Homo sapiens: one gene and its partner. The protein of the gene in region 1 interacts with the protein of each later gene in a biochemical or structural test. Each region holds a gene or a part of one and is shown in the gene's direction. Other genes may lie near its edges.

The links. Proteins that work in one complex are often made in the same cells at the same time.
Region 2: the proteins of DNAJC1 (region 1) and SERPINA3 form a complex in vitro, tested with the Homo sapiens proteins (one study listed by BioGRID).

Annotation. Positions count from the first base shown.
Region 1 is NC_000010.11:22,000,675-22,008,243, reverse strand, and holds the start of DNAJC1 (dnaJ homolog subfamily C member 1 precursor), read left to right. Parts: upstream 1-4,513; 5' UTR 4,514-4,809; coding exon 4,810-5,031; intron 5,032-7,569. UniProt on the Homo sapiens protein: May modulate protein synthesis.
Region 2 is NC_000014.9:94,607,645-94,615,390, forward strand, and holds the start of SERPINA3 (alpha-1-antichymotrypsin precursor), read left to right. Parts: upstream 1-4,746; 5' UTR 4,747-4,803; exon of another isoform or gene 4,804-4,895; intron 4,896-5,702; exon of another isoform or gene 5,703-5,725; intron 5,726-6,391; exon of another isoform or gene 6,392-6,595; intron 6,596-6,789; 5' UTR 6,790-6,797; coding exon 6,798-7,440; intron 7,441-7,746. UniProt on the Homo sapiens protein: Although its physiological function is unclear, it can inhibit neutrophil cathepsin G and mast cell chymase, both of which can convert angiotensin-1 to the active angiotensin-2.

The DNA of each region.
Region 1 (7,569 bases):
ACTCAGCCTCCAAAGTAGCTAGGATTTCAGGCGCACGCCATCATGCCCAGCTAATTTTTTTTGGTAATTTTGGTAAAGATGGGGTTTTGCCATGCTGGCCAGGCTGGTCTCAAACTCCTGATCTCAAGTGATCTGCCCACCTCAGCCTCCCAAAGTGCTAGGATTACAGGCGTGAGCCACAGTGCCGTGCCACAGATGTTCTTTGAAGTTACTGCCTTCACTACATCCCACAAGCTTTGCTGCAGTTTGGCGATGATATACTTAGATTTGCTTTGCTTTGTTGCATTTATCCATTTTGGGGTTTGTTGAGTGTATTGTATTTGTGAGTGGTTGTTTTTTTCTTTCTGTTTTAACAGCCTTAGTGAGATACAATTGACGTACTACACAATTCACCTATTTAAAGTATATTTAAGTCAGTGTTTTTTTAGTATTTAATATACTAAACCGGGTTATACAATCATTGCCATAATCCAATTTTAGAACATTTTCACATCCCCTAAAAGAAATCTTACAGTCATTAGCAGTTAATCTGTAACCTTATCTACTCCCTATCCCTAAGTAACTACTAACCTACTTTCTGTCTTTGTAAGTTTGCCTATTCTGGACATATCATATAACTGGAATTATACAATAGGTGATTTTTTTGTGACTGGCTTCTTTCACATGGCATGTTTTCAAAACTCATCGATGTCACAGCATATATCCACACTTCATTTCATTATATTGCAGAATAATATTCCACTGCATAGATATACCACACTTTGTTTATTCCTTCTTCAGTTGATGAGCATTTGGGTTGTTTACAAACTTTTTGATTATTGTGAATAATGCTGCTATGAACATTTTTGTACAAGTTTTTGTGTGGCCATATGTTTCTTTTCTCTAGAAGTGGAATTGTTGGGTAATATAGTAACTCTACATTTAGCTTTTGGAGGAACTGCCAAATTGTTTTCCTAAGGGGCTCCATCATTTTGAGTTCCTAGCGGTAATGTGAGAGGGTTCCAATTTCTCCACATGTTCAACACTTTTTCTTGTCTATCTTTTTGATTATAGCCATCCTACTTGGTGAGAAGTAGCATGTCATTGTAGTCTTGATCTGCATTTCCCTGATGACTACAGATGTTGAGCATCTTTTCATGTGATTATTGGTCATTTCCATATTTTTGAAGAAATGTCTATTCAACTTGTTTGCCCATTAACAAAAAAAGGGGGGTTGTTTTAGTTGTTGAGTTGTAAGAATCTTTGACAAATTCTGGATCTAAGTACCCTATCAAGTATGTGGTTTACAAATATTGTCTCCTATTCTCTTGTCTTTTTACTTTGTTGATAATATTGTTTGCAGCATACGTTTAATTTCTGTGCAGTCCAATTTATCTATTTTTTTTCTTCTGTCATTTATGTTTCTGTGTCATATATAAGAAACCACTGGCTAACCCAAGGTCACTAAGATTTACTCCCTTTTTTTCTTACAAGAGTTTGGTAGCATTAACTCATACATTGAGGTCTAGGATTCATTTTGAGATATTTTTTTCATCTGTGGTTTTATGTCTTTCATTACTTTTGTAAAATTCTTGGCTATTATATCTTCAAATATTGCTTCTGCTTCATTCTCTGTCTCCTCTTTTTCTAAGGCTCCAGTTATACCTATCCTGGGTTTATTCATTGTACACATGCCTATTAAGCTGTGTTCTATTTTTTCCATTTGTTTTTCTCTCTGTGCTTGAGTTTAGGTATTTTTTCTTGCTCAGTCTCCAAATTCACTAACCCTCTGTTCTGCTGTGTCCAGGTTGCTATTAAACTGATCCATTGCAATATTCCTTTCAGAAATTACATTTTTCAGTTAAATATTTTCCATTGATTCTTTTTTATGGATTTTAATACTCTTAAAATTCTGCATATTTTAATCCATCTTGTTCATGTTTTCTTCTATTTTATAACCTATGGCTTTATTTCATAATAGTTATTTTAAAGTTCTTATCTAAACTTCAATAGTTGGCTTATCTGTGGATCTTCTATTATTTTTTTTTTCTTGATTGTTGGTCAAATTTTCCTGCTCTTCTCACACCTCATAATTTTTTTTTACAAATGTTAGACTTTTATATTAAAGATCTATAGACAATATAGATGATGTTATTTTCTTCTAGGGATAAACATAGACAAATAGGATGATGTTCTGATTATCTCTGTCTAATCAAGGATGAGCTGGGTTGGGATTGGGGTGCGGTTTCAGTAAGATAGTTCTCTTGTGGTTTCTCTCTCTTCTTCATGTGTGATTCCTCTGGGCTTTTGATCAAGAGCCTGGACAGCTGCTGTTTCCTCTGCTCTGAGATTCAGTTCTGCCTTTGAGAGGTTTTAAACGTAGATCTTCAGCCTCCTTCTCATACAACTTCAAAAATAGTGTAAATGTCTTGAAGGGGGAGAATGCTTGTGTATTTGAGGCAGGATCCTTCTAAGCAGAATTAGCTTTCTATGCAGTAGAATATGGGGTAATTTTACTCTGCCTATCACGCCCAGCTGCTCAGCCTCCTGCACCACCCCAGAACTCAGCGAATGTCCTGTGGGAAAACTGGCTATATGTTTGGGGCTCCTCTATATTTCCAATCCATTTCACAGCTCACATGATGGTTAAACATCTCACTGGTTTCTCTTTTTCTGTGTAAACTCCCTCTGCCCAGGCCAAGCTGGATGAGTCTATGCCCAGAATTAGTACATGTCACCAGGGAAGAAAACAGTGGATACTGTCACTCCCTTAGTTCAGACCTCAGCAAAAGATTTATTCAATTGCACTGTAATTTTTGGGACAATGACTGAATAGGTAAAGAGGCCAAGCTAGAAGTCTAAATATGAATATCACTGTGGTCTTTGCAGGAACCTGGACAAGCAAGAAGATCATCTCAGGGTGGACAAGTGTCATTGGAGCTGGGCAGCATGAATTTTTGAGTAATACCTTATGTCCATGAGAAGTATTATTAATAGAATCCAATTCTGTTTCAGCATGGCCTTAGAAAGAGGATGGGCTATCTTTAGATGGAGTAAGTCCCCGAGGTTCTCAGACAACATAAAGGTAAAACTCAAAAGGGAAATACTAGGCTGTCTGCTACAAGATCGGGGTAAGAATCCCAGATTTGTGGCAATATGGCACCAGTTTCAAAGGTTTTATTGCACTTAATCTAATGATCAAATTAGGAGAAAAGATGAATGTTACTATAATATGTAAAAGTAGTGCTTAAGATCATTAATTTCATCTTATTTCGATGTTTTGTTCATTGAATAAACAGTAACCTAATTTAGGGACTTGGTAAAGATGACGTTCACTTTAAGAAAACTGATATAACCAAAAATAAACTAGGCTGGGGGTGGTGGCTCATGCCTGTAATCCCAGCAGTTTGGGAGGCTGAGGTGGGTAGATCACATCATGTGAGGTCAGGAGTTTGAGACCAATCTGGCCTACACGGTGAAACCCCGTCTCTACTAAAAATACAAAAAATTAGCCAGGCATGGTGGCAGGAGTCTGTAATCCTAGCTACTCGGGAGGCTGAGCCAGGAGAATTGCTTGAACGTGGGAGGCAGAGGTTGCAGTGAGCCGAGATGGTGTCATTGCACTCCAGCCTGTGCAACAAGAGCAAAACTCCGTCTCTAAATAAATAAATAAATAAACTAAAAATCTGTGGTAGGGGGAATGGTGGTAGGGAGGTAGTCACAGGATTCAGTTCAACTAATTGAGTGCTCTCATGTGCTATGCATTGTGCTAAGCACACAATAATAAAGTCCACACAAGAGAATTGTGGTGGAGAAAATAACTTGAAAAGAGCTTGAACAGAAGCAATGCAAGACTAGAAGGTGAGACATTGTTATGGGAGAGGAGGTTTTTAGCCTGTCTTTTAAAACAGAAACATCTCAATTGAGGTCTGTTTTCAAAGGAACCCCAACTGGAGGTGGGCTAAGGTGGATAAACTACATTTCTCCTCCAACTATGATTGAGTCACCATTATTAACTGTTAATTCTACCAGGTCATTTTATGGTATTATGCCTGTAAATCTTAATTCATAATTAGAAGTATACTTTTTGTTTTGGTTTCAATTCCTTTTCTGCTCTACCTCTCTCTACTTACTAGATTTGCCCCTTTTAGAACCTGGTTCAACTTGTCCTGTCTTCTTTGCTGATGGACTAATTAAATGCATGGAAGCCATAATCAATTAATCAGGCTTCAAATATGCTTTTAGTGTTCGATAGCTAGGGGAGAGGAAGACAGTAGCTATTTCAGGGGAAGTCCACGTGGGGCGTTCCAGATGGACGCGAGATGGCTATAACCGTCCCTGTCTCTCAGCCCATGTGGGCGCAGGTACAGCTGCTCCGTGCGCGCCAGTGATTGAGAGGCATTTCACCCAGGCCCAGATCTGGGGCGCCAGGCGTCCAGGCTTCCGGCCACGCCCCCTTCCCGCGGTTGCTAGGAGACATGATGTCACCGGAAGCGAGGCCTGGGATAGGCTGAGGCGAAGGGAAGCCTCACCCACTGTGCAGCCCAGGCGCCGGGCGCTGCCTCTACAGCTGTGTGTAGGCCTGGGGGCGAGGGTCTTCGGAACGTAGCGCTGGCTGCGGCCCCGCCCGCCTACCCACCCGCCCGTCCGGCAGCCGGCTCCCGCCGCCTCCGCGCTCTGTCTGGGGCCAGCCACCTGGCGGGCCGCTCCGGTGCGCCTGCCCGCGCTTTTCACTGACAGGCGCTGTTCCCCACAGCCAGCGCCGCCCGCCACGTCCCAGCTCTCGGCCAACGGAGCTGCGCGGCGGGTGACCTTTCCGAGCCCAGCGCGATGACGGCTCCTTGCTCCCAGCCGGCGCAGCTTCCTGGACGCCGCCAGCTCGGGCTGGTGCCGTTCCCGCCGCCGCCGCCGCGGACGCCGCTGCTGTGGCTGCTGCTGCTGCTGCTGGCCGCCGTGGCGCCGGCGCGCGGCTGGGAGAGCGGAGACCTGGAGTTGTTTGACTTAGTGGAGGAGGTGCAGCTCAACTTCTACCAGTTCCTCGGGGTGCAGCAGGTAAGCAAGGAGGCGCGCGGGGCCGGGCGGAGAGGGGCCAGGGCAGGCGTCAGGCGACCCGGTTCCTCAGAGACAGCCGGACACGTAGGGCAGGGCTTGGTCACCCCGGGCTCTGGCTGCCCTCAGCTCGGGTCACCGGGGTCCTCAGCCTTGGAAGGACGTGTCCGTCTTCCCCAGATCTTTACTCCTGCTTCAACTTTTCTAGTCCCAGCCCCAGTGACAGGCTGGACGGCGCCACTAGCCTAGGGTGGCGATGCCTTCTCTCTGCTCCGGCGTTCTGGGGAAGAGCCTTCCCCCTCCAGCTGTGCTGGAGGAAGAACGAAGAGTGGTGTGGGTAGACTTTTTTTTTTTTTTAATTTAACACCTACCTTTTGCCTTCCTGTCCCCCTGAATGTGAGAAAGAGCAGCCGCTTCTCACCCTAAACTGTCATCTTCCACCGATACTTACCTCATCCTTATTCTTATTTCAGCTGCCTCCCCTCCTCTTCCCTTCTGGGAAAGTAGGAATGCACTGTGGCCAGTGTCTGTGTTGCAAAAGTTTTTCTTACTTTGTACTTCGTCATCTTTTTAGCCTGTTAGGTAGATGTTTGTTTCGCTTTCGCAGTTTAGAAATCTGGAGGAATTTGAAGCGTCTAACCAGGTTGGAGGTGTTAAGTTTTTTGAGCAGCAAAGGACTTGGGATGCGATTGGAAGAGAAGCCCCCGGTCAGTAATGTAGGAATGGGTTTTTTTTTCCCCTTTTCCTTTTGTTTCATTTCGTTTTCTTCTATAGCTTAAGACATTAACTTGTAAAATCCATTTGTTGCTTTTTAGTTCTACCATTGAGGGTGGTTGAGTGAGGGTAGATATCCAGTCTCTACCTGAAGCCTTGTGCGAAGGAGAAGATAACATTTCGCTGATTTCAGGCTTATGGGGTGAAAAATGTACACTTCACACGATCTGATTGAGCCCTTCGTACAATGCTTTGAATAGTTATGGGAGTAAAAAATTAATGTTTACGATAGTTGCCATTCAAGGCACACTTCACATGACTAGATATGAAATGCACATCCCCTTCCCCCATAGGTTATCATAAATGTGGGTGAACTATTGAACTTTTACTGAATTTTAATTTTCAGACATTGCATTTTCATTCCATCAGTGAATATAAAATTGCTGGGTTGCCAGGGTACCATGAGTGAAACAATTTTTTATTTTTGTAAGAGTTATAAAGTATAGGCATTTCACACTTCAGATTCATATGTGCAAGCAACTTTGTAATAACTATATTTATGATCTGTTGCCTGGTGCCCCTCCCTGCTTATAGATACACTATATATCTCATTTTCAAAGCAAATGATGGAGTATGTGTAAAAATAATTAGTGAAGCTCTGATGACTTTTAAGAACTACTTTAATACTGGGAATAATTAGAATTTATCATTGATTACATTCTGTACGTAAAGAGAGTCTTAAACATAATCTATCCAGAAATCTTGAAGATCCAGTTATTCATGAAAAATTAAGTGCCTTTAAGAGAACAGAAATTTAGTAGCAGTTTAAAATTTAGATCATGTAATCTAGCTTTGCATGTGAACACTCATAGAATTTTCATTTATAATTTCATGTAACTTGATTTGCATAGTTAATTAGGCAGTGTGAACAACCAGAGCACTTGACTCTCTGGGCAAAGATGAGAAAATAAAGAAGCATAGATAATCAAGAAGATTCTTTGTCAAGGTAGAATCCGAAAAGAAGGATCCAGAAAATTGTTTTAACCTGTGTTTCTCTATCCAGCTGTATTAAAATTGGAAAGAATGCCAGGAGGAATTTTATTCTGTCCAAGCAGAGAAACTGAATGGAACAAGTTTTTTTCTTTACATTGAATCTTAACTTTGTTAGATGACTTTCAGGGACCAGAAATTTGGTGGAGACAAATGCAACCTGTCCAGGGTCTTTCATGTGTAGTTTTCAAGCCAGAGCCATTTGGTGACTAGCCAAACATGAGGGACCAGAACAAAGTAGGTAGGCTGCTGAAAGTGGTGACCTGGCTCTGTGCACTAATCTCTTCTTGTTCACGCAACAGAGATTTGTTTGGTGCCTATTGGATTTTAAGCATTGGGAGTTGACCTTTATATAAAACAAAACCCCTAAGCTTATAATTCAGTAGGGAGAAACAGACAGTAAACAGCCAAGTAAGTAAATATAAATGTTATATGGTCAGAGCAGGCCTCTGAGAGAAGTTAGGGAGTAAGCCATGTGGGTAATTGTTGTGTTGTAGGCCATTTGGGCTGCCATAGCAAAATGCCATGAACTGGACAGCTTTTCAACAGGAGAACTTGATTTCTCACAATTCTGGAGGCTGGGAAATCCAAGATTAAGGCACCGGCAGATTCTGTGTCTGGTGAGGGCCTTCTGGTCATAGATGGCACCTTCTTGCTGTGTCCTCACATGGTGGTACGGGCAGGGCAGCTCTCTGGGGCTTCTTTTATAAGGACACTAATCTCATCCATTAGGACTCCACCTTCGTGATATAATCACCTCACAGAGGCCCCACCTTG
Region 2 (7,746 bases), on another chromosome or scaffold:
AATGTGCAAAAATCACACGCATTCCTATACAACAATAACAGACAAACAGAGAGCCAAATCATGAGTGAGCTCCCATTCACAATTGCTACAAAGAGAATAAAATACCTAGGAATCCAACTTACAAGGGATGTGAAGGACCTCTTCAAGGAGAACTACAAACCACTACTCAACGAAATAAAAGAGGACACAAACAAATGGAAGAACATTCCATGCTCATGGATAATAAGAATCAATATCATGAAAATGGCCATACTGCCCAAAGTAATTTATAGATGCAATGCTATCTCCATCAAGCTACCACTGACTTTCTTCACAGAATTGGAAAAAACTACTTTAAATTTCATATGGAACCAAAAAAGAGCCTGCATAGCCAAGACAATCCTAAGCCAAAAGAACCAAGCTGGAGGTATAACACTACCTGACTTCAAACTATATTACAAGGCTTCAGTAACCAAAACAGTATGGTACTGGTACCAAAACAGATATATAGAACAATGGAACAGAACAGAGGCCTCAGAAATAACACCACACATCTACAACCATCTGATCTTTGACAAACCTGACAAAAACAAGAAATGGGAAAAGGATTCCCTATTTAATAAATGGTGCTGGGAAAACTGGCTAGCCATATGTAGAAAGCTGAAGCTGGATCCCTTCCTTACACCTTATACAAAAATTAACTCAAGATGGATTAAAGACTTAAATGTAAGACCTAAAACCATAAAAACCCTAGAAGAAAACTTAGGCAATACCATTCAGGACATAGGCATAGGCAAAGACTTCATGACTAAAACACCAAAAGCAATGGCAACAAAAGCCAAAATTGACAAATGGGATCTAATTAAACTAAAGAGCTTCTGCACAGCAAAAGAAACTATCATCAGAGTGAACAGGTAACCTACAGAATGGGAGAAAATTTTTGCAATCTATCCATCTGACAAAGGGCTAATATCCAGAATCTACAAGGAACTTAAGCAAATTTACAAGAAAAAAACAAACAATCCCATCAAAAAGTGGGCGAAGGAGATGAACAGACACTTCTCAAATGAAGACATTTATGAAGCCAACAGACATATGAAAAAATGCTCATCATCACTGGTCCTTAGAGAAATGCAAATCAAAACCACAATGAGATACCATCTCATACCAGTTAGAATGGGGATCATTAAAAAGTCAGGAAACAACAGATGCTGGAGAGTATGCAGAGAAATAGAAATGCTTTTACACTGTTGGTGGGTCTGTAAATTAGTTCAACCTTTGTGGAAGACAGTGTGGCAATTCCTCAAGGATGTAGAACTAGAAATACAATTTGACCCAGCAATCCCATTACTGGATATATACCCAAAGGATTATACATCATGCTACTATAAAGACACATGCACACATATGTTTATTGTGGCACCATTCACAATAGCAAAGACTTGGAACCAACCCAAATGTCCACCAATAATAGACTGGATAAAGAAAATATGGCACATATACACCATGGAATACTATGCAGCCATAAAAAAGGATGAGTTCATGTCCTTTTCAGGGACATGGATGAAGCTGGAAACCATCATTCTCAGCAAACTAATACAGGAACAGGAAACCAAACACCACATGTTCTCACTCATAAGTGGGAGCTGAACAACGAAAACATATGGACACAGGGAGGGGACTATCACACATTGGGGCCTGTTGGGGGGTTGGGGGCTGGCAGAGGGATAGCATTAGGAGAAATACCTAATGTAAATGACAAGTTGATGGGTGCAGCAAACCAATATGGCACATGTATACCTATGTAAAAAACCTGCACGTTGTGCACATGTACCCCACAACTTAAAGTATAATTTAAGAAAAGAAAGAAAGAAGGAAAATGATGCTCTGAGGCCGGAGAACTTGAGAACACTCAGATAATGCTCTGAGGCAAGATGACTAGTCATCCCCAATGTCCACTCTCTTTGTCTCTCTCATGGTAATGGAACTCTGAATTTTTAGCTGGGAGGTGGCTACCTAGAATCTTGACTGCACTGCACAGCCTCCTTTGTAGCTAGGTATGGCCATGGGACAAAACTCCAGGCAACACAACACAAGTGGGAATGACAGGCAATGTTCAAGGCATTCCTTTCAAAAGAAAGGGTGTGCCCTTCCCTTCCCCTGTGGCCCTTTCTATGGACTGGAAGGTGGACATAGCAGTGAGCCATCTTAGCCTAGACAAACAGACGTGGAGGGGCAGCTGAGCAACCAGACAGGAGGACGTGGTTTCTGACAACGTGGAGGCACCATATCAACCCACTGCCTCCAGCTGGACCTGCAGGAGAGGGAAATGAACTTCAGTCTCATTTTAGCAACTATTTCTTTAGGATTCTGTGTAACTTAAACATATGTATTGGCCAGGTACAGTGGCTCACACCTGTAATTCCAGCACTTTGGGAGGCTGAGGTGGGAGGATCCCTTGAGGCCAGGATTTCAAGACTAGCCTGGACAACACAATGAAACCCTGCCTCTACAAAAAAATAAAAATTTAAAAATTAGCCAGGCATGGCGTTGTGCACCTATGGTTCCAGCTACTCAGAAGGCTGAGGCGGCAGGATATCTTGAGTCGAGGCGGCAGGATATCTTGAGTCCAGGAGTCAGAGTCTTCAGTAAGCAACGAGCAATGATTGCGCCACTACATTCCAGCCTGGGTGACAAAGCGAGTCTCTCTCTCTCTCTCTCTCTCTCTCTCTCTATATATATATATATATATATATAATATATATATAAAAATATATAATATATTATATATGTGTATACGTATATATGTATATATATACACACACACACATAGAGAGAGATATATATATAAAGACACACACACACACACACACACACACACACACACACACACACACATTCAATTCCAAAACTGGGAGCCTGAAAGTCATTTAAGAAAGATGGGCCCAGACAGTTATTGGTCATCTTAGTGCCTTACAGTCAACAAATATGTAAGTCCTCTAAAGATGCAGCACTATCGCAACAGACAAACAAAAAATCCTGTCCTCGTAGAGTGTACATTTAATATCATTTCATTTCATCTTGATTACCACTCTGTCAGGGAATATTGCCTTGCATCTTAGACATGAGGAAATTAAGCTGTAGAGATTTCCCATGATTTGTTTGAAGTGAGTCAGTTGGTGAGTCAGACATCAGAGATTCAAGCCAGGTCAGCTCATGCCAGAGCTAGAACCTCGCCACTGGTCTGGTGGCCTCCAAAGCATGCCCTCTAGAGAGGCCTGTCAGGGCTACCCCGGATGGGGACTGTGACCATGAGGAATCAAGAGGAAGGATTTTTTTTTTTTTGAGACAGAGTCTCTCTGTGTTGCCCAGGCTGGAGTGCAGTGGCGTGATCTTGGCTCACTGCAACCTCTGCCTCCTGGGTTCAAGCGATTCTCCTGCCTCAGCCTCGCCTCCCAAGTAGCTGGGTTACAGGCATGCGCCATGATGCCCTGCTAGTTTGTTTGTTTTTTTTTTTTTTGTATTTTTAGTAAAGATGGGGTTTCGCCATGTTGGCCAAGCTGGTCATGGACTCCTGACCTCAGGTGGTCTGCCCACGTCAGCCTCCCAAGATGCTGGGATTACCAGCATGAGCCACTAGTCCCGCCCAGGATTTTTTTTTTCCTTTTTCATGAGCCAAAGAAAGACCCCAGACTAGCTAAGAGAGAGGCCCAAGGATACCTGAAGGCCGGGGAGGAGGGACAACCACTTGTTGGGGTGAACCAATCGCAGAGGCTCAGCAGGACAGAGGCCAAGGCTGAGGAGGCCCCCACAGAGAAACAGAGCCTGAGGACAAGGGGTTCCTCACAACACCTGTGCTCCCCGAAAGCTCCCCTCCACACCCCTCTCTAGGTGCCCTACTCTCTGGGGTTGGTGAAGGGGTGCCAAAAATGCAAACTGATCCACAGAAAAATAGAGTCCTGTATTTTAAAAATATATCTAGGTTTGTATATGGACATTCACATCACACAGACACACAGACACACATGCAGCCACACACACACACACACACAGAGACACCAAAGAAAAGTGCTTTAGAAATACACCAAAATGTGGCTGGGTGCGGTGGCTCATGCCTGTAATCCCAGCACTTTGGGAGGCTGAGGTGGGCAGATCACGAGGTCAGGAGTTCAAGACCAGTCCGACCAACAAGGTGAAACCCTGTCTCTACGAAAAATACAAAAATTAGCTGGGCGTGGTGGTGTGTGCCTGTAGTCCCAGCTACTCGGGAGGCTGAGGCAGAAAGTTGCTTGAACCCGGGAGTCAGAGGTTGCAGTGAGCTGAGATCACGCCACTGCACTCCAGCCTGGGCAACAAAGCAAGACTCTGTCTCAAAATAAAAATAAAAAATAAAAAGAAATAAAAAAGAAATATACCAAAATGTTAGCTGGGGTCTTCTCTGGGTAGTAAAGTGCTGGGGGATATTTTCCAAAGTCCTTCTTTACATTCTCTGAGTTTTTCCATGTTCTTCAATGAGTATTTAATAAGCAGATAAAAACTAATACAACAAAGGATTTTTTCTGTGTGCTTTTTTGACCTTTGGAGGAAGAGATTAGAGCTAGTCCCATAACCAGGTTATTTGAGTAGGTCTAACAAGCCCGTATTACCAGAAATTATCATCTGGTCATTTCCAGTCCGAGAACAGAACACTTGGTTGTCCTGGCATTTCCCAAGCAGGGGGAGGAGTTCTCTGCAGGAATAAATAAGCCTCAGCATTCATGAAAATCCACTACTCCAGACAGACGGCTTTGGAATCCACCAGCTACATCCAGCTCCCTGAGGCAGGTAATCCATGATGTTTTACATCCTGGGAGCGGAGGAATCTGTTTTTCCAGGAGAGTTTTAGGCAGCAGCCTGGAGTGTGTGGAGTGTGAGGGGTAAGCAGAGGCCAGGAGGAGGTGTACTCAGGTGTTAGGGGCCAGGGGTCTGTTCTTGGCTGCCACTGATTCCCTGTGCCTTTTTTAGAGGCATCCTCTGTGTCTGGGTTTTCACACCTGCAAAGGGTGGAGGTGCCCTGGGGCCTCTATGGTCATTTCTGCCTTGATACTTACAGATTCGGATTTGAGTCAGCTGTGCATCTGACCCTCAGGGAAGAGGTGCTGTCCCCTTGCCTGGAGCAGGGTGCAGCTCTCAGAACATGTGGCAGATGTGATTATTGCAGCAGGTCCCTCTGAGCAGAGGCCACAGGCCTCACCATGATTTCAGGGTCTCCATGGGGCTGCCTCGGGAGCTCCACTTCCCCAAAAGGACCCCTGGCCAAGTCGACAGATGGGCTGTGTCTCTGTCCAGCAACAGAAAAGACAAACTGCTGGGAAACAGCCAGCCCTCCAACTTGCCCAAACAGAAAAGACAAGCCTTTGCCCCTGAAATAATTCTGGAGAAAAATATTGTCTAACATTTATCCAGAGAAATGATTGCATCAGCCTGAGAGTGAACAGTTGAAGCAAACAAGGTGCCTCTGTCCCTGGGCTTGGCCAAAGGCATTTCCACTGGCCTCCCCTCCTTCCCCTCCTTCCCCTCCTTCCCCTCCTTCCCTTCCTTTCCTTCCTTCCCTTCCTTCCACTCTCTCTTCCCCTTTTCTTCTCCTCTCTCTACCCCTCTCCCCTCCCCTCCCTTCCAATCGCCTCTCTTCCCCACTCTTCTCCCCAGCACCCAAGCTGCCCCTTTTCTCTTCTGAATTCTAGGACTGAGTGGGCGGAGGCTGAAGGTGAATAATCTTGTTTGCTGCGGTCACCGGCTTGGAACTCAGCCCTTCCAGGGTCTCTTGTGCAGTAGCTCATGGCTCTTCTCTGGCTTGTAGTTTCAGGAAAGGGGTAGTATGGGAGGTGGTGACTGCTCGGTACGTCTAATATGAACCAGGTGCCTTCATCATTTATCTCACCTGAGCCACTTAACAGGTTGTGCAGAGACGGAAACAGGTTGAGAGATGTACAGTCACCTGCTTGCCAGTACACAGCAATCAAAAGTGGCCAAAATAAAATCCCAGTCCAAGTCTGGGAGACTCCAAAGCCCTCTCTGCCTTCTCCCCACTAAGAGGCCCTTCCAGGCTTATGGTGGACACAGACACCACGTGGCAACCTGGCAGGGGCAGAGAAGAACATTTGCCTTTCTTTGGTCTTGCTGCCAACCATTATCAGGGCCATCGAGGCTCCAGACACTGTACCAGGGACTTTCATTTCCCTCTCTCAGTCGACCCTCACTGCCACCCAGCATCACATCGTGGAGGCCTGTGGAGGCCACACCACGTGACATCTAGAGGCTGGGAGAGTCACTGTGGCCTCTATCTCTGCCCAGGGCTCCTTCATCCCTGGGTTCTACTTTGGTGGCAGTTGGGAGAATGAAGGAAGGGAGCCCCTGCTTTCTAATCCCCTAGGATGAGATCTGCTCACCAAGCAGGAGAGGAGCAGGCATTCTGATTGGACTGAACCTCGGACCCCCCATCAGCTTACAGACCGAGGAGCCAGGCAAACCTGGCTGCCCACTGGGCTCCTTTACCTGTTTGCTGTATGATCTTGGGCAAGCCCCCTCACCGCTCTGTGCCCGGCTTTTCCACTGCAAGAAAATGGCAACAATTATGGTACCTACCTCAAAGGGTGAAATGAAGCAGAGTGATGTGTGTCGGGTGCCCCAGAGAGCACCTACCTGAGGGAGGCTCCAAAGCTAGCAAGAGGCAGCAGGACAGGGACCAGGACGCAGGCTGGGTGGAGGGCAGTGGGAGGTGGTCGGGGCTCCATCTGGCCCTCTGAGACTTAAAGGAGCTTTGCTTTTCAGAGTTGAGAATGGAGAGAATGTTACCTCTCCTGGCTCTGGGGCTCTTGGCGGCTGGGTTCTGCCCTGCTGTCCTCTGCCACCCTAACAGCCCACTTGACGAGGAGAATCTGACCCAGGAGAACCAAGACCGAGGGACACACGTGGACCTCGGATTAGCCTCCGCCAACGTGGACTTCGCTTTCAGCCTGTACAAGCAGTTAGTCCTGAAGGCCCCTGATAAGAATGTCATCTTCTCCCCACTGAGCATCTCCACCGCCTTGGCCTTCCTGTCTCTGGGGGCCCATAATACCACCCTGACAGAGATTCTCAAAGGCCTCAAGTTCAACCTCACGGAGACTTCTGAGGCAGAAATTCACCAGAGCTTCCAGCACCTCCTGCGCACCCTCAATCAGTCCAGCGATGAGCTGCAGCTGAGTATGGGAAATGCCATGTTTGTCAAAGAGCAACTCAGTCTGCTGGACAGGTTCACGGAGGATGCCAAGAGGCTGTATGGCTCCGAGGCCTTTGCCACTGACTTTCAGGACTCAGCTGCAGCTAAGAAGCTCATCAACGACTACGTGAAGAATGGAACTAGGGGGAAAATCACAGATCTGATCAAGGACCTTGACTCGCAGACAATGATGGTCCTGGTGAATTACATCTTCTTTAAAGGTGAGTGTGCCTGGCTTGGGGTTCAGAAGAGGTGGATCTCAGGGCCATTTCTGTCCTGACTCAACAATGGTGTTATTAGGCAAACCACTGTAGAGGAGAGTGCCCACAGCATGGGGGCAGCATAAGCATCAAGGCCCCACCCTGCCCATAGGCATCGCCGTCTCCTGTGGGGTTTTTCCAAATTACAGTTTGTCCTTGGAAGACATAATTCAGTGGAGCCCATCAGCCTCTGGTCTGAGTCAGTGTGGTGCTTTTCACTCTGATTTAAACTTGTCCGGCAAACAGAAAGAAGGAGCTCTCCTTTCA